Regions from separate parts of the Homo sapiens genome. Here regions 2, 3, 4, 5, 6 and 7 are each linked to region 1. The links come from fine-mapping of genetic effects on gene expression. A gene starts in region 1. Each other region holds a variant in brackets. All regions are shown on one strand. Distances are between the middles of the regions. Region 1 holds the start of MTHFS (methenyltetrahydrofolate synthetase). Region 2 has its middle 19 kb from the start of TRC-GCA5-1. Region 3 has its middle 16 kb from the start of ST20. Region 4 has its middle 23 kb from the start of ST20. Region 5 has its middle 6.3 kb from the start of TRC-GCA5-1. Region 6 has its middle 8.5 kb from the start of ST20. Region 7 overlaps ST20-MTHFS (ST20-MTHFS readthrough).

The links. PIP is the estimated chance that this variant, and not a neighbour inherited with it, causes the effect. A credible set is the group of variants that fine-mapping cannot tell apart.
Region 2: its variant is the best candidate, but not a certain one, in a credible set for the expression of MTHFS in whole blood (INTERVAL, PIP 0.59).
Region 3: its variant is the best candidate, but not a certain one, in a credible set for the expression of MTHFS in tibial nerve (GTEx, PIP 0.74).
Region 4: its variant is the best candidate, but not a certain one, in a credible set for the expression of MTHFS in whole blood (TOPMed, PIP 0.54).
Region 5: its variant is the best candidate, but not a certain one, in a credible set for the expression of MTHFS in prefrontal cortex (BrainSeq, PIP 0.57).
Region 6: its variant is the best candidate, but not a certain one, in a credible set for the expression of MTHFS in tibial nerve (GTEx, PIP 0.54).
Region 7: its variant is the best candidate, but not a certain one, in a credible set for the expression of MTHFS in whole blood (INTERVAL, PIP 0.84).

Annotation. Positions count from the first base shown.
Region 1 is chr15:79,895,232-79,899,557 of GRCh38, reverse strand. It overlaps MTHFS (methenyltetrahydrofolate synthetase), which reads left to right and starts at 2,544. Exons shown (of 3, transcript NM_006441.4): 1 at 2,544-2,686. The coding sequence starts at 2,570. The region is part of intron 2 of ST20-MTHFS (ST20-MTHFS readthrough); the gene reads left to right. ST20 (suppressor of tumorigenicity 20) reads left to right here. Exons shown (of 3, transcript NR_037653.2): 3 at 433-716. RefSeq lists an enhancer at 2,046-2,095 and a silencer at 2,236-2,535.
Region 2 is chr15:79,723,656-79,727,981 of GRCh38, reverse strand. No RefSeq gene overlaps it. Among named protein-coding and RNA genes, the nearest start is that of TRC-GCA5-1, 19 kb to the left of the region's middle. The variant C/A (reference allele first, on the strand shown) is at 1,831.
Region 3 is chr15:79,937,567-79,941,892 of GRCh38, reverse strand. No RefSeq gene overlaps it. Among named protein-coding and RNA genes, the nearest start is that of ST20, 16 kb to the right of the region's middle. The variant T/C (reference allele first, on the strand shown) is at 2,409.
Region 4 is chr15:79,944,655-79,948,980 of GRCh38, reverse strand. It overlaps the pseudogene FDPSP9. Among named protein-coding and RNA genes, the nearest start is that of ST20, 23 kb to the right of the region's middle. The variant A/T (reference allele first, on the strand shown) is at 2,290.
Region 5 is chr15:79,748,809-79,753,134 of GRCh38, reverse strand. It overlaps the pseudogene RPS12P25. Among named protein-coding and RNA genes, the nearest start is that of TRC-GCA5-1, 6.3 kb to the right of the region's middle. The variant A/G (reference allele first, on the strand shown) is at 2,098.
Region 6 is chr15:79,930,096-79,934,421 of GRCh38, reverse strand. No RefSeq gene overlaps it. Among named protein-coding and RNA genes, the nearest start is that of ST20, 8.5 kb to the right of the region's middle. The variant T/C (reference allele first, on the strand shown) is at 1,749.
Region 7 is chr15:79,870,302-79,874,627 of GRCh38, reverse strand. All of the region lies in intron 3 of ST20-MTHFS (ST20-MTHFS readthrough), which reads left to right. The region is part of intron 2 of MTHFS (methenyltetrahydrofolate synthetase); the gene reads left to right. Among named protein-coding and RNA genes, the nearest start is that of MTHFS, 25 kb to the left of the region's middle. RefSeq lists a silencer at 87-381. The variant T/C (reference allele first, on the strand shown) is at 2,709.

The DNA of each region.
Region 1 (4,326 bases):
AATGTTGGACAATTAAACAAGAACAAGAACAAAAAGACTTTTTATCCTCTAGAGCTGTGCTTGCTGTTCACTATGGTAGTAAAATGTGGCTAGTCTGAATTAAGATACGCTGTAAGTACTAAATACTCATGAGATTTTGAAGGTTTGTTATGAAAAAAACTATCTCATTAGTGATTTGACATTGATTACATACAGAAATCATTATCACTAAATATATCTTAAAAATTAATTTTTCCTATTTTTGTACTTTTTAAAATGTGGCTACCAAAAATTAAAATTACAGATGTAGGCCACACTGTGTTTCTGTTACACAATGCTCCTTTAGAGGGATAGAAGATTATTTGCATTATTTAAATGAAAATATTTTTGCTTTTTATTCCAGCATACTTAATCTCCAATGATTTTTAAAATGTTAAATTTATTCTCTCATAGGAAAATGGCTTTGTAAAGAAGCTTGAGCCTAAATCTGGCTGGATGACTTTTCTAGAAGTTACAGGAAAGATCTGTGAAATGCTCTTCTGTCCTGAAGCAATACTGTTGACCAGAAAGGACACTCCATATTGTGAAACCGGCCTAATTTTTCTGACTCTTACGAAAACGATTGCCAACACATACTTCTACTTTTAAATAAACAACTTTGATGATGTAACTTGACCTTCCAGAGTTACAGAAATTTTGTCCCTATTTAATGAATAAATTGTATGTATTTTTCTCTATATGCCATTTTTGTCTTCAGTTTTGGAGTCTGGCTGGAAATTCAGCCAAAGGGTAAAAGCTCAACACAGGATCCAGGCAATTAATTATGGGATGATGACCAGGAAGGCGGTGTCTTTTCTGCCCCAGGCAGACTTTTAAGGTGTGCCATTACCCCAAAAGTCCTTTTCTGTGTCACTAGGCTAGACTGCAGACTAGACTGAGAAGCGGACTCAGGCTAGAAGCAGACTCAGGTCGGCTTCCCTCTTCCCTCCTTCCTTCCCATGCTTTCTGCAGTTTCCAGTGCCCCTGGCTGCTTAAGAGTTTCCATTGATGCCTCCTCCCCAGCCTTCTCTCTCTGGCTTGCCATTTGGGGTTGATGGATATGGCAACCTGATATGCAGGATACTCTGGGATATTCTGAACAAAGAAAATTGGTAAATGATTCAACGTGGAGCTAGTGTTAATTTTAATTTTTATTTTTTGGTAAAAATGAACAGATTAGAAAAGTACGTAGTTTGTTAGACCTCGTGTTCTAACTTTTAGGTCAGCAAATCTAATTGCACTATGTATACGCTGTACCTGCCTGGCCTTCCCTTTTTCTTACAACACAGTCCCCCTGGGACTTGCATTAGCTTTCCCTGGAAGCTGTTGATAGATTCCATAAAGAAGCCAGAACTCCCCTCTCAAGCCATGTGCATTCTCACCGGGCACTTAATTAATGCTTTACCTAGGAGGTGTGATTCTTAACGGTGGGGATTAAGACACTGGGGCGGTCAGTAGGGACGTATTTTTGGCAGAGACAGCTCTGGTTTTCTTAGGAAGTCACATCTGAGAGGCAACCGTCTATGCCATCTGAGGCGCCTGTCTACTGGGAGCAGTTTAAGACTTAACAGTTTCTTTTACCTCTTCCTGCAAGTGCCTCACCCACCCCCCAACTGCTTTTAGTTTTAATTCATTTTTGTGTTTTAATCAGAGCTGAGTGGTGGGAATGAACAGTCACTGATGGTTATAACAGGAAGTACCTATGTGGGCACTATTACCTGGAATACATTCACACTAGAAACCCGCAAAATTTGGCTTTTACACTACAGTTATTGCTTTAGCAGTGTTCCCGATTATGTATCATCTATACATTCATCACATAAGGACATTTCCATCAACCACTGTGGTCCCTTAAGATTATAATGGAGCTGAAAAATTCCTAATACCTACTGATGTGGTAGCCAACCAACACATTACCTTTTCTGTGTTTAGATACACAAGTATCACGGTGCTTACAATTGCCTACAGTATTCGGTACAAAATACGCTGTACAGGTGTGTAGCATAGGTGTGTAGTAACTTTGTGTAACTACACTCTGATGTTTGCACAAGAAGGAAATCGGGGCATCTGTCAGACCTATCCCTGTAGTTAAGCGACTCGTGACGATTTCGCTACATGTCCTGCCTTGCCCTTCTTTTCTGGCCCCTGAAGTCCCACTACTGAACAGTACAAGAGATGCCAGGCACCGTGGGTACTGCCGGCCATCTTTACCATCCCCGCCAGTGGCGCTGCCGCCTCCGCGGTCCCGGTGAGGGCCCAGGCTCAGGGAGGTCAGGCGGCAGGGCAGCGACGGCGCCTCGCCACCGCTCCCCTAACCGGGGAGGGCGAGCCGGACCACGGGGACCGCACGAGGGCTGGGTCCCAAGGGCCAGAGGCGAGGTAAGCGCGCGGCGCGCCGCGGGCCCGCGTCCCGGAAGCGGGGTGGGGGCGCTTCCCCGAGCCCCGACCCGCCCCTAGGCCGCGGATCCACCTGGGAGCGGCCAGGGGCGGAGACCGAACCCGAGGGCGCCCAGGGCGCCGAGGGCGGGACTGGACTCGGCTTGGGCGTGAGATGGCGGCGGCAGCGGTGAGCAGCGCCAAGCGGAGCCTGCGGGGAGAGCTGAAGCAGCGTCTGCGGGCGATGAGTGCCGAGGAGCGGCTACGCCAGTCCCGCGTACTGAGCCAGAAGGTGCGAGGCCGCCCGTAGCGGAAGCCGCGGCGGACAGACCCTCCGAAGGCCTGGCGGCCAGCGATTGCTGATCTGTGCATGGTCCGTGCTGGCGCTGGGCTAGGCGCCCCCCCACCCCCCGGCGCGCGCACGTTTCCCCTCCCGGCGCGCGCACGCCCCCTAGTCGTGGTCTGGACGCTCTTGGCACTATGGCGGGGAGAGGGCCCGGTAGTGAAAGTTGTGGGGCTAAAGAGCGAGAGGACGGCAGGGGTTGACAGATTTATCTCTGGGAGGGGAGTTTGTTTGCATGGGTGGCTCTTTTGGTGCTCGAAAACCCTCCGTGGGGATGACGGTGCTGTGGTGAGAGCACGGTGAGAACAGAAAGTTGTGGTAGAGGAGATGGGTGAACACCTGAGTGCCCAGGTTCCCTCAGTGAGGCCTAAAGTTAATGAGCTACGAGTAAGACTCCGGTTATATTAGTAAAATGGCCAGAGAAAGATGCAGGTGCTTTAGACGAGGGAACACCAAAAAAGGTGTGGAGATGCCAAAGGGCAGAACTCAGAGGTTGACTGGACTTCACTAAGCATATGGAGGGCTAAGGCTGTGTCTCAGTAGCTCCAGGGCCTAGGCTTTTCCTGTCTCAGAGTTGGTCAACATTAAATGCTTTTTCTTGAGTGAACGAAAGGAAGACTTGGCTATCATATCCAGGCTTCCCAAGAACGTAGGAAACAGAAGAGAGAAATGAGAGGAATAAGTGAGGGTCCGTGTTTGTTGGTTAGCAGACCTCTGTTTCATTACTTTCACCAACTGCACTGCTATGTATTTTTAGTCTATGTAATGTCAGTTTTCTTATCAATAAAATGGCAGTCATATCCTGTTGTGAAGGCATGTTCTAAAGAGTTTTTGGGGACTCATTTTTGTTAGACACCAGAGGAAGAAAAATTTAATGTCCCCTGAATAAGTACGTATTTGTAATTCTGTTGTAAGTCAAACTGATGATCTGTCTTCCCAGCATCATGCTTCAGAGACACCAGATATTTGGAAACTTGATGTTCCTTGGAATTAGTTATACCATCAGGCTTTCTTAATTACCCTTCACTATTCTATTATCCGTTATTTACTCAAATTCAAGGTGCCTATGGGTTAAAGCAGTAAAGCATATATGCTCATTTCACCCCTCTCTTCATCTATGTAGGTGTGTATGAGGGAATCTATACAGATGTTAATTCGTTCGTTCAAACAGAATTATTTTAGCTATTATGAGGAAGCATTGCTGGGTGTTTTAGTAGATGTAAAGGATATAGACTCTTGTCCTTACTATCTAGTTGTTTAAAATTTAGCTAATTCATTCACATATGTTGAACACCTATGTAGTGCACACTTGGCTATATACTGGGTTGTGGAGATGAAAAAGATATGATTGTTGCTCTAAAGGAGCAGAGAGCCTAGAAGAGGAAACAGACATGAATAAAGAATTGCATTGAAGCCAGATATATGATAAAGGTAAACACCAATGTTGTGGAAACATAGCCTTGGGGAGGGGAAATTGGAAAGCTTTCTATTGGAAAATGTTTGAGATGAATTTCGGAGAACAAGATGAATTCTTTCAGGTGAAGGGAAAGATGGGATAGGGGAGTGTGAGTAGGGATATTTAGGCAAGA
Region 2 (4,326 bases), 170 kb after region 1:
AAAATGTGATATCCTACAATGGAACTGGGTTAAACTCCTCTAAAATATTATGGTCATGCAATGGAACAGAACAGAGAGCCTGGGAATAAAACTGCACACCTACAACCATCTGATCTTTGACAAAGTCAACAAAAATAAGCAATGAGGAAAGGATTCCCTGTTTAATAAATGGTGCTCGGATAACTGGCTAGTCATATGCAGAAGAATGAAACAACCACTGCCTTTCACCATAAACAAAAATTAACTCAAGATGGATCAAAGATTTAAATGTAAGACTTAAAACTATAAGAATCCTAGAAGAAAATCTAGGAAATACTATTCTGGACATTGGCCTTGGCAAAGAATTTATGGCTGAGATCTCAAAGGCAATCGCAACAAAATCAGAAATCGACAAGTGGGACCTAATTAAATTAAAGAGCTTCTGCACAGCAAAAGAAAATATCAACAGAGTAAACAGGCACTCTATGGAATGGGAGAAAATGGTCACAAGCTATGCATCCAAAAAAGATCTAACATCCAGGATCTATAAGGAACTTAAACAATTTAACAAACAAAAAAATAAATGATGCTATTGAAAAGTGGGCAAAGGACATCAACAGACACTTCTCAAAAGAAGACATATACACAGCCAACAAATATATGAAAAAATGCTCAGCATCACTAGTCATCAGAAAAATGCCAACTGAAACCACATGAGATACCATCTCACACCGGTTAGAATGGCTATTACTAAAAAGTCAAAAAATAACAAACGCTGGCGAGGCTGCAGGGAAAAGGGAATATGTATATACTTCTGGTGGGAATGTAAATTAGTTCAGCCATTGTGGAAAGTAGTTTGGAGATTTCTCGAACTTAAAACAGGACTACCTTTTGACCGAGTAATGTTATTACTGAGTACATATACAAAGGAAAATAATTTTTTCTATGAAAATGCACTCGCACTCACTGTGTATGTTCATCACAGCACTGTTGGCAATAGAATCAACCTAGGTACCCATCCATGGTGGACTGGATGAAGAAAATGTGGTAAATATACACCATGGAATACTGTGCAGTCATAAAGAAGAATGAAATCATGTCCTTTGCAGCAACATGGATGGAGTTGGAGGCCATTATCCTAAGTGAATTAACACAAGAACAGAAAACCAAATACCGCATGTTCTCACTTGTAAGTGGGAGCTAAACGTTGGGGTACACATGGACACAAAGACAGGAATGATAGACACTGGGGACTCCAAAGGGAGGGAGGGAGGTGTGCAAGGGCTGAAAAACTATTAGGTATTGCACTCACTGCCTGAGTGACGGGATCATCCTTACCCCAAACCTCAGCATCACACAATATACCCATGTCACAAAACTGCACACGAATCCCCTGAGTCTAAAATAAAACTTCAAATTAAAACATTGTTATGGCCATGAAATACAAGTAGTTCAGAGAAAGCTATCTACATATATACACATACATGTGCACACACAAATATACTTACATACACACATATATGGAGGAGAGAGATTGAGAGAGAGAGAGTGATAAGACACATGTAGTAAAATATTAAACATGGCTACCCCTCATTTTGCAAAGAATCTGAGAGAGAAAAGAGACCGAGGCAGGGAGCAGGCCAGCCTGAGTCTCCAAAGCAGGCTGTTGGCAGGAAGTCTACTAGACGGGGCACCTGGACTGTGCCAAGGACAAGCCTTTCTGCTCTTTCCCACCAAGGTGGATAATGGGAGCTACTTCTTAACTTTGGCCTCACTATTAATCACCTGGAAACTATACTCGTGTAATTAATTTTAAGTGATAGAAAAGCTATGCATGCTTTCTGTCTCTTC[C/A]CTTTTCATCTGCTCTTGAACCCACTACATCAAAGTATTCTCTATTGGTTCTATTGAATCCACCCCCTGGAAAAACTTTCTAACTGTCCAATCCAATAGACACTTTTCACTATTTATATTATTTGGCCTCTTGAAAGTCACTTGAATTTGTTGACTAATCCCTCCAACCCGAAACTCTTCAGCCCTCGCTTCCTTGCGACCCTTTCCTGGTCTCATAAATGAAGGGGCATCACCATCCACCTTCACTTCTAGGAAGCTTCATCCCAGCCATCTACATGGTTACTTTTTGCCCAGATTTTCCTTAAAAGTTGGGGTTCTCTGGTGCTCAGTTCATTATCTTTTTTTCTTCTTTCTCCACAATATGCTTCATTCTTTTTCGCCTTCTCTTCTTCTTCAAGTCAGGACACTTTTAGTTGAATGTGACGAAAACTCCACTCAATTCTTGTCTCAAAATTTTTAATTGTGGCAAAATACATGTAACATAAAATGTACCATCGTAATCAGGTTTAAGTGTGCAGTTCAGTGGTGTTGAGTGCCTTCACATTGTTGTGCAGCTCCTCTCCAGTATGTTTTCATCTTGTAAAACAGAACCTCTGTACCCATTAAACAGCTCCCCATTCCCCCTCATCCCAGCCCTGGCAACCACCATTCTTCTTTCTGCCTCTGTAAACTTGACCACTCTGGGTACCTCATGTAGGTGGAATCCTACAATATTTGTCCTTTTGTAAATGGCTTCTTTCACTTAGCATAATGTCTTCAAATTCATCCATGTTGTAGCGCATATCAGAATGTTCTTCCTTTTTAAGGCTGAAAAATATTCCATCATATGTATACACCTCATTTTGTTTATTCATTTATCTGTCAATGGACACTTGGGTTACTTCTTTCTTTTGCCTATTTTGAATAGTACTGCTATGAACATGGGTGTGCAAATGTCTCTTCAAGACCCTGCTTTCAATTCTTTTGGATATATATCCAAAAGTGGCGTTGCTGGACCACTCTATTTCTAAACTCCCCCACACACCCATAAAAAGAGAAATGGGAGAAGAAAGAATAAAAAGGGAGAGCTGTGGGCACAGTAACTGGGACATGTGGAGGTGGACTCTGGGCCGCTTGGACGTAGGAGCTCAGATGGTGCTGTCATGGTACAGTTCCTCTTTTTGAGTCTTGACTTTTTCCTGACTGCTGACCTGGCCCTGCAGAAACTGTCTTCCATGTGGTAAGAAAGTTTTCTCCAAAGGCCTCAGATTCACATCTTGCCAGCATGGAAACCCCAGCAGAGAGAGAATATCTCTCCTAAGACTACATATCAATCCTATACAACTAAAGACAAAAAGCGAATCTACTGAGAATGCCAGAGCAGACAGGTAGGAAGGGCTTTGCTCTTGATCATATCCTTGAACTACTTTCGAAAACTGGAACTCATTTCCTCCAGACATCCCTCAATGTGAGGTAATTAAATGTCTTCATTGCTTAAGTCTCTGCTTTGCATTGCTACTTGAAGGAAACAGATAACTCCTATACTGTATAACCACAATAAAGTCTCCCCTTATAGAAAAAGAGAGGAGAAATAACATGCTGTGGTCACATGTTCTGCTGTAGTGGAAAAGGAACAATTCCCTTCTCTGGCAGTGGGGTGACTCATCATCAGTCAATTTGGCTACCCTTCATTTTGCTCTTTAAGAAAATTTCTCTTGTCCATTGAGGAACAGATTCAGCTGATATGCCTTTTCCTTTTTGCTTGGAATGCAGATATGGTGGCTGGAGTTGCAGCAGTTTGGGGGAGGAATATGAGGGAAAAGCCAAGAAAATCTCAGAGATGTTAGCCCTAAATCTACTGGATCGATGTCAGTAACCACCTACTTCTAGCTTTCTTGTTGCACAGAAAAATTTTAAGTGCTCTTTGAATCTAGGCTTCAGCTTTTTAATATATCTGTGTTAGCTACAGGCCTAGATGTTTTGCTTTGTAGTTTTCTTCAGACATGGCTTTGTGGCAACATGAAACAACAGAACTGGGAGGTAAGGCCCTTGCCCAGGTAGCATCACCGTGGATAGGTTTGACTCCAGAGGCAGCACTCAGACACTGGACCAAATTGAGGACAAGCTAAAACAAGGACAGGGTGGACGTACCTTTCCATAAGACATGCCCACAAATGTGCCATGTCAGGTTACCATTGCCATGGCAATACCCAGAAGTTACCACCCTTTTCCATGTCAATGACTGATAACCTAGAAGTTACCACCGTTTTTCTAGAAATTTCTGCAGTTTGCCCCTTAATTTTCATATGATTAAAAATGGGTATAAACATGACCGCAGAACTGGCTCTGACCTGCTACCCTGAGCACACTGCCTATGGGGTAGCCTTGCTCTGCAAGGGGCAGCACCTCTGCTGCTGCTGTACACTGCTGCTTCAATCAGAGTTCCTGTTTAACACCACTGGCTTGCCCTTGAATTCCTTCCCAGGTGAAGCCAAGAACCCTCCCAGGCTAAGTCCG
Region 3 (4,326 bases), 42 kb before region 1:
AGCTTCTATGGGTAGCTCAGGTTGATGCTGCACTCTTTCTAGTAATCTACCCAGGAGTCCAGTTGAACTGTACTTGTCTTTTGGAGACAAGTCTCACTCTGTCGCCCATGCTAGAGTACATTGGCGCGATCTCGGCTCACTGCAACCTCCGCCTCCTGGGTTCAAGCAATTCTCCTGCCTCAGCCTCCTGAGTAGCTGGGGTTACAGGTGTGCGCCACCACGCCCACCTAATTTTTGTATTTTTAGTAGAGACGGGGTTTCACCATGTTGGTCAGGCTGGTCTCAAATTCCTGACCTCTTGATCCACCTGCCTTGGCCTCCCAAAGTGCTGGGATTACAAGAGTGAGCCACTGCGCCCAGCGGAACTGTGCTTGTCTTTTAACTATTTTGCTTTGTCAACGATCTTGCTTTAACACCTCGGAATTGATCTAACAGGTGGATGTGGGGTAGGGTTGGAAAAAAGCACCCTTTCTTCTCATTATATAAGAAATTACATTATAGAAATTTGAGAAAAATAAAATGAAGAAAACAAAAATCACCTATATCATAATCCTGATATATTTTTTTCCAGTTTTTACTATGCTTTTATAAAATAAACTTGACATTATAATAGATATTTACTTTTATACTGTTTTTTCTTTTTCTTTCTTTCTTTCTTTTTAAGAGACAGAGTCTCGCTGTGTCACCAAGGCTGGAGTGCAGTGGTGCGATCATAGCTCACTATAACCTCTTTGAACTTCTGGGCTCAGGGGGTTCTCCTGCCTCAGCCTCCTGAGTAGCTGGTACTATAGGTATGAGCCACCATGCCTGGATAATATTTTGAATATTTTTTGTATAGACAGAGGCTCGCTATGTTGCCCAGGCTGGTCTCGAACTCCTGGCCTCAAGTGATCCTCCACCTCAGCCTTGTTCTTTTCTTTTTTTCTTTTTTTTTTGTTTTTTTGAGACGGAGTCGTGCTCTGTCACCCAGGCTGGGTGCAGTGGTGTGATCTCGGCTCACTGCAACCTCCGCCTCCTGGGTTCAAGCGATTCTCCTGCCTCAGCCTCCTGAGTAGCTGGGACTACAGGTGCGTGCCACCGTGCTCGGCTAATTTTTTGTATTTTAGTAGAGATGGGGTTTCACCATGTTAGCCAGGATGGTCTCGATCTCCTGACCTCGTGATCCACCTGCCTTGGCCTCCCAAAGTGTCGGGATTACAGGTGTGAGCCACCTCGCCTGGCCGTTTTTTTCTTAACATTATAATATAACCATTCTTTCATTTAAAAATTCTTTTAAAACATTAATGAAAAGAGAGATGTGTCTAATTTCACAAGGTACAAATTTTTTACATGGAGATTGTTTTTAGTTTTTTACTGTTATAAATATTTCCAAAATAAACATTTATGTACATGAATATTTTTTCCAGATAATTACTTTTTTAGGTTAAATTACCAGAGCTAGAATTATCTGACCTAAATCTATGAATATAGTTAAGCTCTTGGAGAATACTGCCATATTGTTTTTCAAAAAGCTTACTGTAGACCAGGCGCGTGGCTCATGCCTGTAATCCCAGAACTTTGGGAGGCCAAGGAGGCGGAGAACTTGAGGTCAGGAGTTCAAGACCAGCCTGGCCAACGTGGTGAAACCCTGTCTCTACTAAAAATACAAATAATTAGCCAGGCATCGTGGCGGGCACCTGTAGTCCTAACTACTCAAGAGGCTGAGGCAGGAGAATCGCTGGAACCTGGGAGGCGGAGGTTGCAGTGAGTCAAGGTGGTGCCATTGCACCATCTGGCATGGGTGACTGAGTGAGACTCTGTCTCAAAAACAACAACAACAACAAAAACCAAAGAGCTTGCTGTAATTTACACTTTCATTGACTGTCGTATGAGGGTGAGTGCCCTTTTTACCCCAAAACATTGTACCTTAAGACAGGGTAAGAAGCAATATGATGAAAAGGAGGAGGTAAATGGAAAAGGGAGATCAGGCGGTAAATGGAAAAGGGAGATCAGGCCATCACTTGAGAAAGAATATTCATTTCTGAGTTCTCTCCTTCTACATGAGTATGTGATGGGGCTATTTTGCCATTCTGATTTTCTTGGGGGCTTTTAGCCTTGCCTTATCATGCATCTAGGGAAACAAAAGATCTTCAATCATACGATGCTTTGGTGCTGCTGGCATTCAAACTTATCATTTGACAGGGAGGTGAAGGAAATTAAATCGCACAGTCTGGACACTTTGGAACATCCTTCCTCCCTCTGTCTTTTCTTCTCACCCTTCATATCTGATTGACAAATCCTGCCATTCTGCCTCCTCTCTGTCACCACCTCTCCATACCTATCACATTCTCTAGTTCAGGCTGTCATCATCCTTCACTTGAATAGAATGAACAAATTACCTATGGTCTATTTATCGAACAGTACACATA[T/C]AGTAGTGAAAATCATGAACTAGGGCTAAATTTTTATTTTAAAATGCAGTTAGATTTGTTACTAGTTGGATGCATCTAAATTATCGAACTAAAATATCATGCCAAATTTGTTGTTTTCTTACAACTTTATCATGGGTCTTTGCTGAGAAAACTTACTTGAGGTCTATAGGTATGTCTCTATATTGTATCTACATCTCCATATGAAACAGAGCATTTCAGCTCTTTCATACTCCATCATTTTGAATGAAATTAAATAGGAAGTTTCAAGCTGGTAGGGAAGAAACCGATGGCAATGCTTGAGGAGGAGAGGGATCAAATGAAATGCTGAATTGTGAGGGAAATCCACCTTAACGTGATTCATGTCAAATTCAGAAATTTTAATATTTGTAGTAAACTCTCATGTCCACACTCTTCAGAGAAGGTCTGAGAGTTGAATATTGCTTAGAAGGCAAGGAAAATTGAGAGTAGAGAAATGCTGTGTTTCACCTCTGTTGCATGCACTTAAGAGGAAGAATTTATAAATGGCAGACTTGGGTGACTTTGCTATTCTATTTTGGCTCCTATTTTTTGTCATTTTTCTTGATGTTTTCTTCTCTTTTATTGTAGTATCTTTTTTATACATGGTAACTATGGACAGCAGAATTTCTTACAAACTTATTTCCTGAAAGTAAAATGATATCCATTTTGGAGAATACTTGGGAATATCTTGTTAATTTGAAGATGCACATATTATGTAACCCAGAAATTGTATCTGTAGGCATATACCCTAGTGAAACTCTTGCACATATGCACAAGGAGACATGTACAAGTATGCACTTGCCACATTGTTGGTTATGTCTTCTATTAATAGAAGAATGAACAAATTACCTGTGGTCTATTTATTGAACAGTATACCATACAGCAGTGAAAATAATGAATTAGGGTTACATGTATCAACATGGTGAATCTTGAAAACATAATGCTGAGGGAAAAAGAAGATGGCATAAGAATACTGATAGTATAACAGCATTTGAAATAGTGTGGCATAGTCATGCAGATGTTCTGGTGTCAGGCTCACTTGGTTCAAACCTGCTTCTGTTCTTTCCTAACAGTAAGACCTTGGCAATTCTCCAACCTTGATTGGCCTTCATTTTCTTATCTGTAAAGTGGGGATAATATTTTCCACATCTTATGGTTATTGTGAAAATTACAACGTTAGTACTAAAGTATTAAGAGGAGTACATAGCAGGATTATATTTATGCAGTGCATATTCCATTTAAAATCATGCAAAACAATACTGTATTTGTATAAGAATGTGTATATGTTGGTAAAAGTACATACAGATAAATGAGTGAGAATGATAAACACAAATTTATGATAGTAGTTATCTCCTGGAGGAAGGGATATTTCTTGAGCTGTAGTGGGTACATGATTGTTTTGTTGTTATACTTCTTATGCCTTTGTGTATGACTGAACTATTTCATGATAAAATTTAAATCAAATGAATGAAATTTATTCTTTTTTTTTTTTTTTTTTTTTTTTTTTTTTTGAGACGGAGTCTCGCTGTCACCCAGGCTGGAGTGCAGTGGTGTGATCTGGGCTCACTGCAAGCTCCGCCTCCCGGGTTCACGCCATTCTCCTGCCTCAGCCTCCCCAGTAGCTGGGACTACAGGCGCCCACCACCACAACCAGCTAATTTTTTGTATTTTTAGTAGAGGTGGGGTTTCACCGTGTTAGCCAGGATGGTCTCAATCTCCTGACCTCGTGATCCACCCGCCTCGGCCTCCCAAAGTGCTGGGATTACAGGCGTGAGCCACCGCGCCCGGCCGAAATTTATTCTTAAAACTATAAATACAGTGTAACCAAATTTCTGAGAAATTGGAAACACGAGGAAAAACTCCAAATTATACCATCTTACCTCACAATTTTTAAAAAATT
Region 4 (4,326 bases), 49 kb before region 1:
CATGAAAAATTTTCCAGTTTTTCTCTCTTCCCTGTTCTCACTCTCTCACCTAAAGAATGCATACTTAGCCTTGTGATTTCAGCTGAAAAGTCATTTCCTTGGAGTGGGGGTGGGGGTGATGGTGGAACGGGGGAAGGAGGGGTCACCAGCAACCTCCTGATCTATCTAAATGGAGAGAATGCTCTGTGCAGGCTGACTGTATTATCGTTTGCATGATAATTTTATTTCTTCCTGCAAATTGGCACTTGGTTTATACATTGATTAGTGGTAGTACTTCCCAAACACAACCAGTGAGACCGCATGGCACTTGGTTATTGGGTTTTCCCTGGTGACACTGTGGCTTTTCTTTTAAATTTCTACAATGACTACCTACCACCCCGAGCTGAGGAAGTCAGCCCCTTCTGAAAACTAGCTTTCCATACCACCCTTAAAGTGTGGTGCAGCGCTTCAGCTATAGCTCCGTCAGCAAAGAGTACAATGGGGTTTCTTCTCTTGACCTGGACTTCCAACAGCAGCTGGGGATTTTATTAGCTTAATAAGTTGCTCTTCCCACCTCATTGTCGCATGACACAGCCTTCCCTCACTGACTCAGCAGCTATCTGCCGAGCATCCGTTCCACACCAGGCCTGGTGCTGAGCAGTGAAGATACAGGTGACTACAGAACATGGGCCGGTCTCATACTTCACAGGATGAACAAGAACAGAGCTACAGAGCTAATAAAACAGTGCTGTGACAGAGGAGGAGGTGCATTTTAGTGTCAGTTTTGGAGATCCTGGGTTAGAATCTGATAACCTTTATGTAGTACGTACGTGAGCTAGGGCAAGACACAGGATTTCCAAACCTGTTTCCTCTTCTATAAAAATACTGTAATAATAAGTACTTTGTGGTTCATTTTGAGGAACATAAGAAATTTAACTTGGCACCTGGCATTTAGTAAACTCAGAAATGGTACCTATTATCACTGGCCTTATTGTAGTCCAGATGCCCATTCTCCTCTCATCCTCCAGTGTTTTTTTTGTTTGTTTGTTTGTTTTTTTTTAGACAGATTCTCGCTCTGTTGCCCAGGCTGGAGTGCAGTGGCATGATCTCGGCTCACTGCAAGCTCCGCCTGCCGGGTTCACGCCATTCTTCTGCCTCAGCCTCCCAAGTAGCTGGGACTACAGGCGCCCACCACCATGCCTGGCTAATTTTTTGTGTTTTTAGTAGAGACGGGGTTTCACCATGTTAGCCAGGATGGTCTCAATCTCCTGACCTCGTGATCTGCCTGCGGCGGCCTCCCAAAATGCTGGGATTACAGGTGTGAGCCACCATGCCTGGCCTCATCCTCCAGTTTTTAAATTTTTCCCATACTAATCAGCCTTATGTTTACCCACAAGAATCCACTCACACGACTGTGCAATAAGGACCACTGAATATTTTGTCGGGGAGAGAGGTGAGAGGCCACATAAAATATAACTGAAAAAAAATTCCTCTTAGACATTTTTATTCTTCAAATTTTTCTTCCTGGCTGTGTTGTTTCCAGGGACTTTCCCCTTCTCTCCTCTCCCTCCAATGCAGGAGAAACTAGCCTTCTTATCCCCACAATCTTTTCTTTGTATTTGAGTGATTTCCCTCTACTCTTCCCTTTGGGAAGCAACTTTAAGTCCTGTAGTCATCTTATGTACAGCAGTTGAGGGATCATGTTTTTATCATTTTGGCTTCTAGCTCTCTACCCCAAGTGTCTTCCAGAAGTACTTCTTAAAAAAAGAAGTCATACACATGGTACTTTCCTAGGAGGAGTTCTAGTGAATAAAATGCCTGTCACTCAGACTGGAGTGCAGTGGTGCTCACTGCAGCCTCAACCTCCTGGGTTCAAGTGGTCCTCCTGCCTCAGCCTCCCAAGTAGCTGGGATCACAGGTGTATGCCACCACAACTGGCTAATGTTAAATTTTTTTTGTAGATATGGAGATCTTGCTTTGTTGTCCAGGCCAGTCGTGAACTCTTGAGCTCAAGTGATCCTCCCCTCTCAGCCTGCAAAAGCTTTGGGATTACTGGCATGAGACACTGTGCCCAGCTACATGTTTTTTGACTTAACACATAGGGTCAACCAAAATTTCCATGTTTTTCATATGATGGTCTCTCCTATCACATGCTTTCACAATGTTTATTTAACAGTTAAAAAATTTTTTGAACTTTTATTTTGCACTAATTTTAGTTTTACAGAAAAGTTGCAAAAATAGTACACTTCATCTAGCTGCCACCAACATTAACATCTTATATAGTTATAGTATGACTATCCAAAGAAGGAC[A/T]TTAACATTGATACAGTATGATTAACCAATCTACAAATCTTACTGGTATTCCCCAGTTTTCTCACTAGTGTCCTTTTCCGGTCCAAAATCTAAAACAGATCGTGCAGTTTAGTTGTCATGTCTCCTTAAAGCTGTGACAATTCCTCAGTCTTTGTCTTTCATGACTTTGGGACTTCTGAAGATTACTAGTCTGGCATTTTATAGAATGTCCCTCAATTTGGGTTTGATGGTTTTTCATGATTAGATTGAGGTTATACATTTCTGGCAGGAATACAACAGAAAGCTGTGTCCTTTCCAGTGCATCATACTGGGGGGAACATATGTCATCTTATTAGTAATGCTAACATTGACTACTCAGTTAAGGTGGTGTCTGCTAGGTTTCTCCACTATTAAGTTTCTTGTGGGGATATATTTTTAAGATTATGGTGTTTTTGTGATTATGATGTTTCTCATCATTCTTCCACCCACTAAGCTTAGCATCCATCAACAGTTTTCATCTGCAACAATTATAACTGCAATGTTTGCTTAATGGTGATTTTCCATTTCCATTATTCCTTCCACATTTATTAACTGGAATTATGTGATAAGGAAGCATATCTCTTCTCTCCTAGTTATTTATTCATATCAGTGTGCACTATGGATATTTATTTTATGGGTTATGATGTAAGATTATCATTATTTTGTTGCTCAGATTGTCCAAGCATTAGCCATTGGGAACCCTGATTCAGCTCCTGGCTCCCTCTTGTCATGCTCCCTTCCTTTCAGAGCATGTCCTTGCTTTGTGGCACCACAAGATACTCCAGTCTCGGCTCTGATTTTCACTGCCCCAACTCTAGAATCAGCCATTTCTCCAAGAAGCTCTTTTTTTTTTTTTAAATTGGAAAATGATATTAAGAAACCAAGATCTTGATGTTAGATTTCATTGCTACTGGTGTGTTATTGCTTCCAGGTCCTCTCACAAACAGAGCCAGTTAATAAAATATAGAAAAAAATGTAAATAAAGATATTTCTATATATTTTGTATCTTTTTTTTTGTTTTTGTTTTTGTTTTTGTTTTTTTTACACAATATTTATTGAGTGCCTCCTCTCCCGAGTCCTTGCAGTCTCTAGGTCACTTTTTCTGCTTGTAGATTTTGTACACAAGCCCCAGAAACATGGCTGGGAGCAGGGGCGCTGCGTACTGTTCAGTGAGACCCATAATGTGGCTGTAACCGTCTTCCTCATACTGCAAGAACACGGCCGGCAGATCCAGCTCCTCATACAGTGCCTTCACCTGGACTACCTTCTTGGCCTTCTTCTGTCCGTAATTTTCCTTCAGGATCTGGTACTGTTCCAGAGTGGATCGTTGCAGACACTGAACCACCAGCCAGCTGCATTTGTTGTCCTGGATGTCAGTGCCAACTTTGCGGGTCACAGTGGGGTCCCCAAAGAGGTCAAGGTAACCATCCTGAATTTGAAAAAACTCTCGATCTCCAGTAGGATCTTCTAAGCATTGGCGTGCTGCTTCTCACCATCGATTCCTACCATGTACATGGCTGCAGCTACAGGAAGGTAGAAAGAGTAGAAAGCTATCTTGTACTTGACAATAGATTTGTACCTGTTTTCAGTGAATCTGCCAAAATCCACATTGTCCTAGGGGCTGTGATGAGGTCCAGGGTCTGCCCAATCTCAGGCTGACAGGAAATCTGCAGGAAGAGCTCGATCAGGTTCAGGTAATAGGGCTGTGCTTGGCAATAGAGCTTCAGCAGGTAGTAGATACATGCTTCCAGAAGGATAGCATAATTGATGGCATCCTACCCCATGCCCATCTTCTGATAACAGCAGATCTGTCCCCAGCGGGTGAGGGATGAATCCATGATGTCATCTGTCACCAGGAAGAAAGCTTGCAGCAGTTCCATACACCAGCCCACAGTCAGGCCCTCTGGAGACTATCAGCATCCTGTTTCCTTGGTTCCACCAGCTCCTGGAACGCTACTAGCACCGTCAAACCCCGGTGATACTTGCCTCCAATGGCATTGTACTCCAGGACGTCCTTGA
Region 5 (4,326 bases), 150 kb after region 1:
CCACAGCAACATGGGACATGAGGCAGTATTTATTTGTGGGCATTATTATTATTATTTTTTTGAGATGGAGTCTCACTCTATTGCCCATGCTGGAGTGCAGTGGTGCGATCTCGGCTCATTGCAACCTCTGCCTCCAGGGCTCAAGGGATTCTCCTGCCTCAGCCTCCTGAGTAGCTGGGATTATAGACATACACTGCCATGCCTGGCTAATTTTTGTATTTTCAGTAGAGACGGGGTTTCACCATGTTAGCCAGGTTGGTCTTGAACTCCTGACCTCAAGTGATCTGCCCGCCTTGGCCTCCCAAAGTGTTGGGATTACAGGCGTGAGCTACCACGCCTGGCCAGTATTTATGGGCATTTTTGATAACCAGTGTGTGCCATTCATTTTTATCTCTAGAAAGCTATAAGTAAGCAAACACTGAGCTAGTTAGCAAGGTGTCTATGACAGCTCAGTGCTGCTGTCAAAATCACCTGCTCATTTGCTACTTTTCATTGTCACCTGGGGAGTAGGGCAAAATGGAAACTCCTTCAAGGCCATGCACAGTGGCTCACACCTATAATCCCAGTGCTTTGGGAGGCCAAGGCGAGTTGATGGCTTGAGGCCAGGAGTTCTAGACCAGCCTGAGCAACATGGCAAAATCCTGTCTCTACAAAAAAACCCCAAAACCTCAAAAATCAGCCAGGTGTGGTGGCACACGCCTGTAATCCCAGCTGCTCAGGAGGCTGAGATGGGAGGATTGCTTGAGCCTGGGAGGTCAAGGTTGCAGCTGCAGTGAGCCAAGATCACTCCTGCTGTACTTTAGCCTGGGCAACAGAGTGAGACCTTGTCTAAAAAAACGGAAGAGAAATGCTCAGAGACTGTAACATATTAATCTTTTTTACATCAATGGTAATAAGCAAACTGGCCAAAATGCTTAATCAACTTCTTGGCCAAGTTTAACCCCTTTTCATGCAACCTAGACCACATTTTAGGTGCAGTGAGTGTTAACCAAGGACAAACTGCTGCTCTTTCCCCACCGCCACTGAGTCACGGAGGCAGAGGCTCAGGTGTGTTCAAGAATCAGCTTCACCCATAACCCACCGCCATGGCCCAGGAAGGCATCAGTGCTGGAGGTGTCATGGACCTTAATACTGCTTTACAAGAGGTCCTGAAGGCTGCCCTCATCCATGATGGCCTAGCACGTGGAATTCGAGAAGCTGCCAAAGCCTTAGACAAGTGCTGGGCCCATCCTTGTGCTGCCCCCAACTGTAATGAGCCTGCCTATGTGGCTGGCTGGTGAAGGCCCTTGTTGCTGAGCACCAGATCACCCTAATTAAGGTTGATGACAATAAACTAGGGGAAGGGATGGACCACTGTAAAACTGACAGAAGGAAAACCCCATAAAGTGGTTGGCTGCAGTTGTGTAGCGTTAAGGACTATGGCAAAGGATGTCATCAAAGAGTTTTTTTGTTGTTGTTTTTTGTTTTGAGACAGTCTCTCTCTGTCACTAGGCTGGAGTGGGGCAGTGGCATGATCTTGGCTCACTGCAGACTCCACCTCCTGGGTTCAAGCAATTCTCCTGCCTCAGCCTCCCAAGTAGCTGGGATTACAGGCACACACCACCATGCCCGGCTAATTTTTGTATTTTTGTATTTTTAGTAGAGACAGAGTTTCACCATGTGGCTCAGGCTGATCTTGAACTCCTGACCTCAGGTGATCTGCCTGCCTCGGCATCCCAAAGTCCTGGGATTATAGGTGTGAGCCACTGCGCACGGCCCTTCTTTCATGTTTTAATTCAATGGAGTTTTGCATGTACTAAGTTTTCAAAAATACATGTTGAAGGAACATTTTTATCTGTACTCCGACACACACCCAATTGTCAAATTGTCTTCACAGCTCTCAGACTTATAGATTTAGAATCTCCTCAGGGACTTGATCTTAATTGAAGACAAAGGAGATCCTAAAGTGACTTTTTGTCCTAGTGGTCAGCTGGAATGTGGGAGGAACAATTTCAGCCCAAGAGCAAGTTGAAAGTTTTCTCGGGGAGGAGCCAAGTTGGCCGAATAGGAAGAGCTCTGGTCTGCAGCTCCCAGTGTGAGCGACGCAGAAAACGGGTG[A/G]TTTCTGCATTTCCATCTGAGGTATCAGGTTCATCTCACTAGGGAGTGCCAGACAGTGGGCGCAGGTCAGTGGGTGTGCGCACCGTGCGCGAGCCGAAGCAGGGCGAGGCATTGCCTCACTTGGGAAGCACAAGGGGTCAGGGAGTTCCCTTTCCTAGTCAAAGAAAGGGGTGACAGATGACACCTGGAAAATCGGGTCACTCCCACCCGAATACTGCGCTTTTCTGACGGGCTTAAAAAACGGCGCACCAGGAGATTATATCCCGCACCTGGCTCGGAGGGTCCTACGCCCACGGTGTCTCACTGATTGCTAGTGCAGCAGTCTGAGATCAAACTGCAAGGTGGCAGCGAGGCTGGGGGAGGGGCGCCCGCCATTGCCCAGGCTTGCTTAGGTAGACAAAGCAGCCGGGAAGCTCGAACTGGGTGGAGCCCACCACAGCTCAAGGAGGCCTGCCTGCCTCTGTAGGCTCCACCTCTGGGGGCAGGGCACAGACAAACAAAAAGACAGCAGTAACCTCTGCAGACTTAAATGTCCCTGTCTGACAGCTGGGAGAGCAGTGGTTCTCCCAGCACGCAGCTGGAGGTCTGAGAACGGGCAGACTGCCTCCTCAAGTGGGTCCCTGACCTCTGACCCCCGAGCAGCCTAGCTGGGAGGCACCCCCCAGCAGGGGCAGACTGACACCTCACATGGCAGGGTACTCCAACAGACCTGCAGCTGAGGGTCCTGTGTGTTAGAAGGAAAACTAACCAACAGAAAGGACATCCACACCAAAAACCCATCTGTACATCACCATCATCAAAGACCAAAAGTAGATAAAACCACAAAGATGGGGATAAAACAGAGCAGAAAAACTGGAAACTCTAAAAAGCAGAGCACCTCTCCTCCTCCAAAGGAACGCAGTTCCTCACCAGCAACGGAACAAAGCTGGATGGAGAATGACTTTGACGAGCTGAGAGAAGAAGGCTTCAGATGATCAAATTACTCTGAGCTACGGGAGGACATTCAAACCAAAGGCAAAGAAGTTGAAAACTTTGAAAAAAGTTTAGAAGAATGTATAACTAGAATAACCAATACAGAGAAGTGCTTAAAGGAGCTGATGGAGCTGAAAACCAAGGCTCGAGAACTACGTGAAGAATGCAGAAGCCTCAGGAGATGATGCGATCAACTGGAAGAAAGGGTTTCAGCGATGGAAGATGAAATGAATGAAATGAAGTGAGAAGGGAAGTTTAGAGAAAAACGAATAAAAAGAAATGAGCAAAGCCTCCAAGAAATATGGGACTATGTGAAAAGACCAAATCTACATCTGATTGGTGTACCTGAAAGTGACGGGGAGAATGGAACCAAGTTGGAAAACACTGCAGGATATTATCCAGGAGAACTTCCCCAATCTAGCAAGGCAGGCCAACATTCAGATTCAGGAAATACAGAGAACGCCACAAAGATACTCCTAAAGAAGAGCAACTCCAAGACACATAATTGTCAGATTCACCAAAGTTGAAATGAAGGAAAAAATGTTAAGGGCAGCCAGAGAGAAAGGTCAGGTTACCCTCAAAGGGAAGCCCATCAGACTAACAGCAGATCTCTTGGCAGAAACTCTACAAGCCAGAAGAGAGTGGGGGCCAATATTCAACATTCTTAAAGAAAAGAATTTTCAACCCAGAATTTCATATCCAGCCAAACTAAGCTTCATAAGTGAAGGAGAAATAAAATACTTTACAGACAAGCAAATGCTGAGAGATTTTGTCACCACCAGGCCTGCCCGAAAAGAGCTCCTGAAGGAAGCACTAAACATGGAAAGGAACAACTGGTACCAGCCACTGCAAAATCATGCCAAAATGTAAAGACCATCGAGACTAGGAAGAAACTGCATCAACTAACGAGCAAAATCACCAGCTAACATCATAATGACAGGATCAAATTCACACATAACAATATTAACTTTAAATGTAAATGGACTAAATGCTCCAATTAAAAGACACAGACTGGCAAATTGGATAAAGAGTCAAGACCCATCAGTGTGCTGTATTCAGGAAACCCATCTCACATGCAGAGACACACATAGGCTCAAAATAAAAGGATGGAGAAAGATCTACCAAGCAAATGGAAAACAAAAAAAGGCAGGGGGTTGCAATCCTAGTCTCTGATAAAACAGACTTTAAACCAACAAAGATCAAAAGAGATAAAGAAGGCCATTACATAATGGTAAAGGGATCAATTCAACAAGAAGA
Region 6 (4,326 bases), 35 kb before region 1:
AGCCTTCCAAAGTGCTGGGATTACAGGCGTGAGCCACCATGGCTGGCCCAGGCTACACCTACTCTTAAAAGGGACCTTGTGTAACATGATGATGTAGCTTTGAATGCATCAAAGGTGAAGAGATAGAAAGGCATGTCTTTTATCTTGGCCGTTGGAGAGGTTGGGGAAATTCATTTTCTCTCATGTAGCCTGCAATCCCACCTTTGAAAGCAATACACACACTCCAGCTGTCCTACAGTATACACATACCTTCTCCCTGCCAGGATAAATACATTTAATACCATGATCTGCCCTGCTGTTATTGCACAGCAGAATTTTGGTGGTTTGCTCATGAGTTGTCTATAAATGATACTATAACATGATTTGAACCCAATATTCAAGTACTTAGTAAGCAGAGTTGCTAACTGATACCTGCATCTGACTCAAGGTGGACTAAATACCAGGCCATACCTCTTGATCAACTGACATCGGCTGCAAAAATAGGCAGTAGAAAAAGCTCAAACAATTTGGGAGGATTGTTGTGGTAGGGAAGAGGAAACAAGTCCTCTAATAATGCAGGTAGACAAACATGCCCACAGACAAAGCAGCTCTGTTGGCCACTACTTCGTTTGTAGGTGCCCCATGTGAGGTAAACCATACCCACTGATAACAGGGAGCCACCTGTGCCATACCCGACTATTCGTCTCTAACCTGCCCTGCCCAACACCTTGCCCTCATTTCTCTAGAATAGAGTGAAGATGTGCGATGAAGGCTATCTGGTTTCTAGGAACCATGGGAAGATAGAATCTGTTTACACAATGGTAAAGCTCCCTTCTGCATTAGGGAGCTTTGCAGATTGGGCTCTAGTCGAGCAGATCTGGTTACCAACTGGTCTCAATGCTGGAAACTCACAACCCTGCCAAGGCACAGAATCCCTAACCCTTAAATGCAACTGTTTCTTCCAAATGCCCTGCTACAAAGGGCATGGAAACAAAGGTTGCAACTGCCTGCAACCACTTCCTTTTGGCATTCACAAAGAATCACCCTGTCATCTAGCATTGAACCCAGTGCGCCTGGCTTTCATTTGTTTCCCTGGCTCTTTACTTTGGCTTTTCAGATCTGCTTCTAATCTTATTTCAGGACCCGTTCAAATTTTTCTTCTCTGATGTATAGGCCCAGGACTGTTGCCAGTAAATTCTGACTCTCAAATCTTCTTGCTTTGTTGATTGTGGTGGTACTACTACCCTGGGTAAAAGACTCCTTCCGCTAACTTCTGCTCCCAAAAACTCCTACAGGCTGGGCTAGTTCACTAACCTTTGCAACGAGAAGCTCAGATGCTGAAGCTTTATTTTTATTTTTATTTTGAGACGGAGTCTCACTCTGTCGCCCAGGCTGGAATGCAGTAGCGGAATCTAGGCTCACTACAACCTCCACCCCCTGGGTTCAAGCAATTTTCCTGCCTCAGCTTCCCAAGTAGCTGGGACTACAGGCATGCACCACCACGCCTGGCTCATTTTTTTGTATTTTCAGTAGAGATGGGGTTTCAACATATTGGTCAGACTGGTCTTGAACTCTTGACCTCAAATAATCTGCCCGCCTCGGCCTCCCAAAATTCTGGGATTACAGGCGTGAGCCACTGTGCCTGGACACTGAAACTTCACTTTAGCAAACTGCTGACTGATGGGTCTCCCGGCTTTCCTACCTATCTCTCCAGTAGCTGGAGTACTGCCCAAATACACAGCCAACTTTCGAACAAGAGATCCAGGAAC[T/C]GCCTTCCTCTCTAAGGAACTGATTCCTTCAGTGCGGATTCCAGAGGTGCTGAGACATCAAAACTGGCAAACTTGCTCTTAGAGGAAGAAGATTGAGTTGTTGGGTATCACAAAGGCAATGACCCTTAAGTTCTCAACATTGTTCCTCAATCCCTACCCCAGAGGGTGGCTAACTAGGTATTAATACTTTCTTAAGTAGAAGAATGGAGAACTCATCATGTTCATGGGCCAAAGAAGATTGTGAGCGCAATTCTGAAGTCAGATCAGCTGGGTTCAAATTCAGCTCCACTACCTTCTGGCTATGGGACTGGAAATTATTTAACCTCTCTGTGTTTCAGTTTCTTCATTTGTAAAATGGAGATGATGATGGTAACAGCAGCTACCTCTAAAGACTATGGTGAGTTTTAAATGAATTATTACGTGTCATAAAAGTGGTCAATAGCTGTTACTATTATTACTGGGCCAGTTTGGAGACCTGGATATTTACAGAATTAAACTTCCAGGGCACATATAACTTTGTCTACATAAGAAGGATGATGGACAGAAAGTAACTTTGTAGACATACTTGGTCAAATTGAATAGTTGATGATGTCCTTGTCTGTGTAATACTCCAGGGGTGCCCAAAGACTCAGAAATAGAATTCGCTCAACTTCTTAGAAGGCTAATTATATAAGTATCTTAATGGCAGCTTAATTTACTTTTGCTTGATACAAGTTTCTATTTATAATCTACTCTCTCCATTGCATCTCCAAGTCAATACTCAGAATAATATATTTTAAATCCTAGGGCAGATTATTGAGACTTATTTTATTGACTTGGAGATTTGGATTATTTCTAGTATGTTTTCTTCCATCTTCGAATAGTACTTTCTCTAAAACATCAAAGACATTCAGAAGTGGTTCATATTCCACTTTTCCAACTTCACTGTCCTACTGATATACTAAAGAAAAAAAAAAGAAATAGTAGATGTTATTTAAGAATCTTATTTTTCCATCTCCTGCCAGAAAAATGGTGAAAGACAAGGTATTTGTTTCACTTTGGGTAAGACAGCAGCTTCCTAACAGTTCAAGAACCTGTTCACCCTCTGCTCTGATCACAGACTTACCCACCCCTACATCTATATAATATATGCCCCCCAACAGTGTGGTAGGGGACCACCGTCTAGACAGAATCCCCCTAAGAAACTCCCCTTTCTTTTTGCCACCAAGCTTTCAATTCTTATATACCTAACCTTTAAGGTTCCTGGGATTCCTTTGTAAAATTGCATTGTGCCAAGACAGTGAAGAAGAGGCCCTTTGATAGACCAGAGGGAGGCACATCTGGAGGAAGGATGCTGGTAAGGAATAAATGAAAGAGGATAAATAGAAAATACCTGACCATCTGTACCCATGAAGATTAAATGAACAGACCGTCTAGTGAAATGATCTGTTATTTTAAAAAATGGATGGATTGGATAGCAAAGGTTTTGTCAAAGGAGTGAGCATTTTCTAAGGAAATGCAAATATTTCTATGTCTAGTAATTTCTAAATTACTTTTTAGCATGTGCTCAGACAGACACACACACACACTTTGATTTAGGATTTTAGAATGGCTAAATATCTTTAAGCCATTGAGTAACAGTTTTTCATTCTAAATGCTTTTAGTGGCTTGTAATATTTTCCACTTTGTCAGGAATTTTGCTAAGCGCTAACATGCATGTAGGAGCAAGTTATGAAAATGGCCACACCTGCTTAGAAAAGAAGACAGTCCCTCTTCCAGTAAGAAAGCAAGGCTATCATAAAAGACAACCCCTGAAAAGCTAGTTGGGCTAACTGCGATGCATACTTTAGACACCTACTAGCTCTGTATCTATATAACAGTTCTTGTATCTATACAACAGTCACATTTACAGTGACTTAAAAAAAATGCTCTAACGCTTCTGAGTCACCAGAGAGGACAGGGTATCATAGTTCACCAGAAAGAGGAAGATCCTGGCAAGGTTAAGGATAGAAAGGAAATATTCTTGTCCTCATACTCTCTCCTCAGCAACTCCTAAGGGCTGTTGGCTCTCAGGAGGTGGAGAGTGACCTAGTTTTAAGGACGACATATATAGTATGACATGTTGCTCTTTTGGAAGGGAAAAATATAATTGTAAAAGTCAACCGGCCGGGTGTGGTGGCTCACGCCTGTAATCCCAGACTTTGGGAGGCCAAGGTGGGTGGATCACGAGGTCAGGAGTTCAAGACCAGCCTGGCCAAGATGGTGAAACCCTGTCTCTACTAAAAACACAAAAATTAGCCAGGTATGGTGGCGGGCGCCTGTAATCCCAGCTGCAGGAGAATCACTTGAACCCGGGAAGCGGAGATTGCAGTGAGCTGAGACTGCACCACTGCACTCCAGCCGGAGCGACAAAGCGAGCGAGACTCCTTCTCAAAAAAAAAAAAAAAAAAAAAAAAAGAGTCAAACATTCGGCTGGGCGCAGTGGCTCACTCCTGTAATCCCAACACTTTGGGAATCCGAGGCAGGCAGATCACCTGAGATCAGGAGTTTGAGACTAGCCTGGCCAACATGGTGAAACTCTGTCTCTATTAAAAATACA
Region 7 (4,326 bases), 25 kb after region 1:
CCTGCCCCAGACAGCTGTGATATTAAACAATTGCCATTGATTTTTAAAATAAATGTCCTAGGGCTAGGGCTTTTTGCATGGAGAGAGCTATGAGTCAGATCAAGTAAAGATAAGACCTGACAATGCACCTTTTCAGGGAACTGCCAGACAAATTAATTAGTGACAGTTTTCTGGGATGGAGCTTTTGTTGAGCTCCAAACCTGTTCTGCCCCTCCATTGGCTGCCAGGCTGTTGGTGGTTGTCACAGCTATTTTAGTTGTAAGGCTGTTGATTTTCAAGTCTACCATGAAGCTGGGGAGAGGGGGATGGGAATGGGGCAAGTTGAAAAGGCACAAAGCTCACTGTTCTTACAGAGAATAAACATTTAGATTGGTGTAAGCCTTTGACTAATTTCTAGAGTTTTGAAAAGTTGATTTTGACCATTTTTCCCAATGTTCTTGCTGGTTTTATTAAGGAGCAGATTTTTAGTTTTCTACTCTGCCATTCTAGAAGTGATTCTGAGCCAGTGATTTAGATAGTAGTTGTTTTCAAACACTGGAATGCATGAAGCTCCACTGATTGATCTGTCTGTGAGTTGCAGAGTGCATTCAAGTTTTAGCACTTCTCTAGTTGTCCTTGGCTGTTACTCTCTGCCAAGCTCTCTCAGATCTTCCCTGCATATCCCTATAGTTTCTAGTCAGCCAGGTATGTAGGAAGAGTTTATCTCAGCCCTTCTATGGACCTCTTATTTTAGTATAGCCACATTACATTCCCATTATGCTCTTACACCAACTGGGATTACAACCTTGGCAAGTAAAGCTGTAATTTTTCCTGTAATATTCCTATGTTTAGCTCACAAAGCCCCCTACCACAAGTTAAGTCTGCCCCTTCTGGCAGCAGAGCTGCTGTTTTTTCCAGCCAGCCCCATATTGGTAAAACTGCCATTCTTGAGGACTGAGCTGGGGGCCTGGGAACCTCACCAGGTAAGAGGACCAGAGACTTCTGCTGTTCCTACTCAGTCTTTGGTCAGCTTCCAAATCCCTGAAATGGCTGGCTTTGGATGATTTTGTTTGATATACAGTATTTTTTTTTTCAGAGAGGATTTTCACTGATTTCTTACCATCATTGCAAAAGGGAATGTTCAGGAGAGGAAATTTCTGATTTTTCAGGGATGTGGTATGTGGGAGAGATGCATAATGTAATAACAGTCCAAATTTCTTGAGTACTTACTACCTGCCAGAAACTGTGCTAAGCAATTATTTTGCATTGCTTCATTTGATTCTTTCCATACCCTGCAGAGGCATGGGTGCTATTAATATCCTGCTCCTCTATTTTATAGATCAGAAAAAAGGCTCAGATGAAGTACCTTATCGATGGTCACACAACTCATGAGTGGCAGAAATAATATTAAGACCCAGGTCCCTTTGGCTGTTAAGACCCCAGCCCTAAACCACTACATCATATATCTATAGCTGGAGCCTGGCACCAGGAGGCGTCACAATGGGATTGAGATAGGGATACAGAAAGAAGGATGGGGACTGAAAGGTGAAGGGTCCTGAAGCCCTGAGCTTCCTCTTTTGCTGTTCTCACTCTGTTTCCTGGAGGTTTTACTGAGTGCCCTGTGGTGTTGACTGCGTCCTACTTGCAAGCCCTGTGGTCTCCCTAATGGTCAGCTAGGCTGGGCCTCTAAGGTCTTTCAGAAGTGCACAGCCCTATGGTGAAAAGGCATCCTTTCTCATGAGGTAACAGACCAGCAGGACTTGCTTTTTGGTCACGACACTGCTGACCAAAACAGGATGTGGTCCAGACAGGATAAAATGGAGAAACCGGCAGAAACCAGCAGACGATGACAAAAGTGATCCCTGGCTGCTGTCATTGCTCATTGGCATAAGAAACTCCTACCAGCACCATGACGATTTACAAATGCCATGGCAATGACCTGGAAGTTACTACCCCTTTCCATGGCAACAACCTGGAAATTACGATCCTTTTGTAGAAAGTTCTAAATAACCTCAATTTGCATTGACCTGCCCCTTAATTTACATATAGCCAAATGTGGGTTTACCTGAATGTTAAATACAGTTGCCAGGAGCCCCTGCCTTGCTGACTCTGGGCTACTGCCTGAGCGCTAGCCCTACTCTGCAAGGAGCAGTACTGTTCAGTCAAAGGCTCACTCCTGAATTCTTTCCCGGCAAAGCCAAAAACCCTCCTGGGCATAACCCCAGTTTTGGGGCTCACCTGTCCTGCATCACTCACATGACATTTCCCTATTTAAACACCCATGATCCCTGAGCCCTACAAGACCAGAAGGTCATAGGGCTCCACAGTGTTACCTGGTAATGTTACAGAATTAGATCAGAGAAAATGGGATTTCTTCATTGTAGTGTGCTTAATGATCTCTGTAAAGAGTATAGCATAAAAAAGCTTCATTAGTTTGAAGACTTATTTTGATTGAACTGCAGGATTTCTGTTTGGGCCTCGTGTATTCTATTAAAATGAAATAAAGTAGCTATACTTAAATTTTTTTTTTTTTTTTTTTTTTTTTGAGACGGAGTCTTGCTCTGTCGCCAGGCTGGAGTGCAGTGGTGTTATCTCAGCTCAGTGCAACCTCCACCTCCTGGGTTCAAGCGATTCTCCTGCCTCAGCACCCCTAGTAGCTGGGATTACAGGTGGCCACCACCATGCCCGGCTAATTTTTGTATTTTTTCGGTAGAGATGGGGTTTCACCA[T/C]GTTGGCCAGGATGGTTTCAATCTCCCGACCTCGTGATCCATGCCTCGGCCTCCCAAAGTGCTGAGATTACAGGCATTAGCCACCGTGCCCGGCCTATGTAAAAAATTTTAATTTTAATAGCATTTGAAGTCAGCATTTAATTTTCTTCTTTTCTTTTTGTTTAAGCATTTCAAATTGTCACTTCAAACATTATACAGAGTTTCCTTGGTAGTACTTAAAAGTACTATTTTTCTAGTAATCACCTTTAAGTTTGGCATTAATTTTTTTTGTCTGAGAATATTTGTATAATTTTTTTATTCAGCAAAACTGCAAATGAATCGTTAATTATAAAAGAGGTAATGAAAGAAGATAAAGTGGAAATTGAACACTAAAAAAAAAAAAAATCCCTTTGTCTTGAATTCTCCCCTCATCAATTTTCTGTGGGGCATCCCTCTGTAAATAGCTTATGATTGAATTTTTGATATTTGTACCCAACTGGTAGTCTTTTAGTTAGGCTGTTCAGTCTGTCCTCTTTTTTTGGGAATAATGCATGTGTCTGGCCTTCTTTCTGTTACCTTTGTCATCATGTTTTTGGGAGACAATTTTTTTTGTCATTTCCTTTTCTTTGTGTCCTTTTTTCCCTCTAGTACTTCATAATTATGCATTCATTTCTACTATTGGTTACATTAAAATATTTTTAGCCTCAAATTCTCACTAGCATTATAAATATAGTATTTATTGACCTTACCCCTGTGAAAGACAAGAAATTAAATGTGCCTTTTCTTTTCTTTTTTTTTGAGACAGAGTCTCACTCTGTTGCCTAGGCTGGAGTCGAATGGAGCAATCTTGGCTCACTGCAACTTCCACCTCCCAGGTTCAAGTAATTCTCCTGCTTCAGCCTCCCCAGTAGCTGGGATTACAGTCATGTGCCACCACGCCCAGCTAATTTTTTGTATTTTTAGTAGAGACAGCTTTCACCATGTTGACCAGGCTGGTCTCGACCTCCTCAGTTCAGGTGATCTGCCTGCTTTGGCCTCCCAAAGTGCTGGGAATACAAGCATGAGCCACCACGCCCGGCCAATGTGCTTTTTCTTTCTAGCTTTTGTCAACATAAACTGGTGTTTAAAATTAATAGTAGTTTAAAGATGTGTATATTCTTTAAAGAATTTTTTTCATTGACATTCGATTATTTTCTTACTATATTATAGAGTATAGAGAAGAGTCATTTAAACTGAACTGTAAATTTTCCTGGGTTCATGATTCCTTGTTCCTACTGTTATAGCATATCTTCTTTATTCTTGATTTATGTATTTTGATGAATTTCTTGGTCAGATGGAATATTCCTTTAAGTAGTTTTTTTCAGCATGGTCCGTGAGTGGTATGTTTTCAGAATGCTTTTATTTTTGAGGCTGTCTTTGTACACATCAGTGAATTCTTGAATAGGATAGAATTCTAGGGTCACAGTTTTTTGTTTTTGTTTCTTTTGTCCACCCAGAATTCTAGCCCAGGATTTGGCAATTATTTTCTGTCAAGTGCTAGATAGTAAATATTTTAGGCTTTTCAGGCCATGGAATCTTTGACAGCAGCTCGATTGTGCCACTGCAATATGAAAGAAACCATAGACGGTACCAAAACAGA